Linked DNA regions of Homo sapiens: region 2 is linked to region 1. The links come from fine-mapping of genetic effects on gene expression. Tissue or cell type: whole blood. Region 1 holds a variant in brackets; the other region holds the start of a gene. All regions are shown on one strand. Distances are from middle to middle.

Evidence for each region. PIP is the estimated chance that this variant, and not a neighbour inherited with it, causes the effect.
Region 2: ZNF655 starts here. The variant in region 1 is fine-mapped to the expression of ZNF655 in whole blood (INTERVAL, PIP above 0.99). The same link has a PIP of 0.9 or more in unexposed skin.

Annotation. Positions count from the first base shown.
Region 1 is chr7:99,157,723-99,160,403 of GRCh38, reverse strand. It overlaps a transcript of KPNA7 not described here. Among named protein-coding and RNA genes, the nearest start is that of SMURF1, 15 kb to the right of the region's middle. The variant A/G (reference allele first, on the strand shown) is at 1,188.
Region 2 is chr7:99,557,074-99,559,754 of GRCh38, reverse strand. ZNF655 (zinc finger protein 655) reads right to left here and starts at 1,113. Exons shown (of 3, transcript NM_138494.3): 1 at 968-1,113. It also overlaps a transcript of FAM200A not described here. RefSeq lists enhancers at 1,039-1,308, 1,339-1,468.

The sequences.
Region 1 (2,681 bases):
AATATAAAACAATAGGAAGCTGCAATTAAACCCCTAGATGCAACTACCAATTTATAAGAAATACAAAAGACAGAGGAGAGGCCGGGTGCGTGGCTCACGCCTGTAATCCCAGCACTTTGGGAGGCCGAGGCGGGCGGATCACGAGGTCAGGAGATTGAGACCATCCTGGCTAACACGGTGAAACCCCGTCTCTACTAAAAATACAAAAAAAATTAGCCTAGCATGGTGGCGGGCACCTGTAGTCCCAGCTACTCAGGAGGCTGAGGCAGGAGAATGACGTGAACCTGGGAGGCGGAGCTTGCAGTGAGCCAGGATCGTACCACTGCACTCCAACCTGGGCAACAGAGCGAGACACTGTCTCAAAAAAAAAAAAAAAAAAAAAAAAACAAAAACAACAGAGGAGAAACACTAAGCTACACTTCAGAAAAGCAAGCAGCAGACTCCAGACCATGAGAAATCCTGCAGACAAGCTACTTCTTTCCTTCTCTTAATAAATTCCAACTAAAAAATTGCTTGGGGGGAACTTATAAATTTAGACTTAAATGACGTATTGACTAACCAGAGTGGGCCTCATTTGTATTCTGATACCACCAAACAATTGAGAAAATAAAACACATATGACATTTATGAGACAATTGGAAACTTGAGCATTGAATGGAGGTTTGATGATAAAGAATGATTGGCTGTTTTGGTTTAATCATCATATTGGGGCTATGTTAATTAGAAATAAAGTCCTTTTAGAGAAATCGGAATGATCATAGATGAAGTGATGTGATGTTTGGAATTTGTTTCAAAGTAATACGGGAAGAGGGAAGTGACAGATACACACATGGGGTGGAATTGGCAATGTGATCATGGTTACCAGGGCTGGTGATAGGTCCATGGGGAGTTCTGTTCTATTCTTTCTGTGGGTGGTTGAAGTTCTCCATAATGTAAAGTTGGAAAGACAAAAAGCTGTTACATCCCCCTATTCCATGAAGCTGACCAACTGCCCCCTGCCCCACCTGGCAGCGAACTGGAAGTTTATTCCTTTTTTTTTTTTTTTTTTTTTTTTTGAGACAGTGTCTCCCTGTGTCACCCAGGCTGGAGTGAAGTAGCACTATCATAGCTCAGTACAGCCTTGAACTCCTGGGGCTCAAGGAATCCTTCCACCTCAGCCTCCCAAGTAGCTGGGACTACAGGCATGC[A/G]CTACCATGCCTGGCTAATGACATTGCTTTTATGAAGCAAAACATAGGATGTTGTCGGGCATGGTGGCTCACGCATGTAATCCCAGTGCTTTGGGAGCCTGAGGCGGGCAGATCACCTAAGGTCAGGAGTTCAAGACCAGCCTGACCAACATGGTGAAACCCCGTCTCTACTAAAAATACACAAGTTAGCCGGGCGTCGTGGTGTGCACCTGTAGTCCCAACTACTCGGGAGGCTGAGACAGGAAAATCGCTTGAACCCAGGAGGCGGAGGTTGCAGTAAGCCAAGATTGTACCGCTACACTCCAGTCTGGGTGACAGAGCTAGACTCCCTCTCAAAAGAAAAAAAAAAGATGCTGTTTATGTACATTCCAAGAACAAAAAGGATTATTGGAAATTAGAAATGATAGTAGAACTGGGCTGAGTGTGGTAGCTCACACCTGTAATCCCAGCACTTTGGGAGGCCGAGTTGGGGATCACTTGAAGTCAGGAGTTCGAGACAAGCCTGGCCAACTTGGTGAAGCCCTGTCTTTACTAAAAATACAAAAATTAGCTGGGCATGGTGGTGCACACCTACAGTCCCAGCTACTCAGGAGGGTGAGGCATGAGAATCGCTTGAACTCAGGAGGTGCAGGTTACAGTGAGCCGAGATCGTGCCACTGCACTCCAGCCTGGGCGACAGAGTGAGACTCCATCTAAAATAATAATAATAATAAAAAGATAGTACAAATGAAAACAGAATTGGAAGATGAAATTGAGGATATTTCCCATAAAGTAGAGCAAAATTGCAAAAATAGAAAAGATCAAATTATATAAAGTCCAGAACTGGAGGTCTGAAATCTGAATAGAGGAGTTCTAGAAGTGGAGAAAAAAAACATAGAGGAAAGAAAATTATCAGATAATACCATTTCCCCAAACAGAAGAAAACTGATCCAGTTTAAAGGATCCAGTGAATAGCCCAGAAAAATGGATGAAAGCTGATTTATGCCAAAGCATATCATTGTGAAAATTTAAAACTGATTAAAAAAAAGATCCAGTTGGGTGTGGTGGCTCATTCCTGTAATCCCAGCACTTTGGGAGGCTGAGGTGGGAGGATCGCTTGAGGCCAGGAGTACCAGACCAGCGTGGGCAACATAAGGAGACTCATCTCTATAAAAGTAAAAAATTAGCCAAATGTGGTGGCATGTACCTGTAGTCCCAGCTACTCAGGAGGCCAGGAGTTCAAGACCAGTGTGGGCAACATAAGGAGACCCATCTCTACAAAAAATCAAAAAAAAATTAGCCAGGTGTGGTAGCACCTGCCTGTAGTCTCAGCTACTCAGGAGGCTGAGGTGGGAGGATTGCTTAAGTCCAGGAGGTCGAGGCTGCAGTGAGCTGTGATCACACCACTGCACTCCAGCCTGGGTGACAGTGAGACCCTGTATCAAAAAACAAAAGTTACATCTAGAGTGTAAAAAGAAGTCATATATGAAAGATCAAGAATCACAATGGCTTGCG
Region 2 (2,681 bases), 400 kb before region 1:
TCCAAAGGCCAAGGCAGGAGAATCGCTTGAGCTTGGGAGGTAGAGGCTGCAGTGAGCTATGACTGCGCCACTGCATTCCAGCCTGTATGACAGCGTGACAGCCCACCTCAAATAAACAAAACAAAATATTTAAAATTTACAATCGTCTTTGGAGGCTCAAGTTGGTGCCCAGAGAAAAATGCTAGTTATGATTGCTCATTTTATTTTAATTTTGTTTTAGCAGAGATGGGAGTCTCGCTATGTTGCCCAGGCTGGACTCGAACGCCTGGCCTCAAGCGATCCTCCCACTTCGGCCTCCCAAAGTGCGGGGATTACGGCGTGAACCACCGTGACAGGCCCGCGTTTACGTAAATAAACTCATTTAAATAAATAAAACAGCAGGCCCCCTAGGAAATGTCTTGGTAACACCGTCAGCCCACTCCGATTTACTACACGGGCTTGGCGAATAAAACTCCACTTTTGGGGTCAGGCCCTTCGCTAACTCAGACCAGCTAGACCGGCCTTTTCCCGGAATCCTGAGAGCAACGCAGGTAAGAGCTGCGGTTCGAACAGGTTTGAGCGGCGTCCTTCAGGCCCAAGGACGCATGAGGGTGCCGTCCCCCTCCCACCACCCTCGCCCTGGGCCCCTGCCCGGCTCCCAGCTCGGTCCTCAGAAGGCCTTGCCCGGCGCTGCCCTCCTCCCACTTCCCTTTTAGGCCAAGGCAAAGTCCCAAAAGGACCAGTGAGGACATACAGACCAGCTCGCACCAGGGCACGGTCGCCGGCTCCTGACGGCGGGGCCCTCGGTCCGCGAGGTGAATGAACCAGGGCTGAAGAGAAACAGGCCCTCCTCGCACCCGGGCCTCCGCGCACTCTCGGGGAAGCGAACTACCGTCGGCCGCGGCCGGACGCCGCCTCCTTCTACTCCCGTGAAGGCAAAACAAGCTGCCACCCCGCTGCGACCCCAAAACGGCTTCCGGGTACTCACCGAGGGGAGGGGCGGGCCTGGCCGCTGTCCTGTCACCTACACACTCGCGCTCGGGGCCACCACAGCCTCTCCCGGGCCGCTGTAGACAGCCCCGAGGCCGGCGCTTCTCGGTGGCACTTCCGGCGACGGAGTGCAGGGTCCCGAATGAGGGCCCCCCCTCCTCCGCCCAGGCATGAGGGTCCCGGATGTGGGTGAGAGCCCCGGATGAGGGTCCCGGATGTGAGTGAGGGCCCCGGATGTGAGTGACGGCCCCGGATGAGGAACTCGGAGGAGGAGCTGGGCCCGCGCGTCCATGATTCGAAGGCTCGTTTTCGCAGCTTTTCCACGTCTTTTTCCGGTCCCACTGCCCTCCATGCTAACTCACTGGGCGTCTCTAGCCGTTATACCAACAATGACTGCGACCAGTGTTGGGAAAGCGCCCCCTGGGCCCCTCCCTGACGCCAGCCCATCCTTGAGACTCCCTGCAAGGAGGCGGCCCGACCCAGTGGGTGCGTGTCGTGGGGTGAGGAGGAATGGCCGACCTAATGGTCCCGCTTCCGTGAGTAGCACAGGGGTGCCTGCTCAGAGTGTAGTACAACGCTGACAAGTAGAAGGCGAGGATTGCGGGGCCTGGGTGAGATGGGACCCACTAAGTTGTGGGATCGAAATCTCAGTAGGTCCTTGGGGAAAGCGGGGACGGGAGGGGAGATGAGCAGATTGGAATAGAACCGAGAGAGACGGAGGAAACTGACAGTTGCGTCCCTGGTGGGAAGACTAAAATCTATGCAGAAACAGGGATAGGCAAAAGCATTGTGCACAAGCGGGACAGGCAGAGCGCCGGGACAGAAACCCTTAGGACATTCTGACACCTTGCTGAACCTGGATCCTTACAGAATATGTCTTGTAGGTGAAGCTAGATCTGCAAGGCATAGGCAAGCCTCTTAGAGAATCAGAAAAGTGATTTGGAAGGAACTTCAGCTGTTACTACTTTGTTTAAGCAAATCAAATGCTGTTCTTTAATGTTACTGGACGTTTCAAATTAAACACAAGAAAACCTGAAGTGTGGCATTTTATATATTTTTTCAAAATGTATCAGCTTCTTGGAGATTCTGATATTCCTTTCCTCTCTTTATCCCTAAGTATCATTTATCCAACCTAAATTCATACTAGGACACAATCTCTCTAGTCTGCAGTGCCCGTCACAGTGGAGTCAGGATCGGAGAAAGAAAATGCACTGCTTAGTCCATTTCATGCTGGACAGCTCCAATTAGAAACTTTTCCTTGTGTTGAACAGAAATACACCCCTGGTGATGTCTATCTATTGTTCCTGTTGACAGGTCCCCAGGACAATAGATGACACAGTACTTCTTCCTCTTCATAACGGCCATTTTAATATCCTAGGAGAGCTAAAGGTTTGGAGTTCTTCCTGAGTTGCCATTTCCCCACCTAGAACCCTTCACAGGTTGTACCTATTAGCAATGTGATGGGAAACCATTTCAGCAGCAAAGGTGAGTGAGCTATGGCAGTGAGGCACATCGCGTCCAAGTTTTAGCTGACTCAGGCAATTGGCTCCAGTGAGAGGACCACAAAAGGTACCCACTTAAAGAGGCCACTTCCCACCAGTACTCATCAAAACATAACAAAGTGTTAAGAAACAGCAGCTGCTATTTTGCTTTTGAGCAAAATTTTCTTTTAACAGTTTGCCAGATGACAGAGGTGGAAACAACTCAAAAAA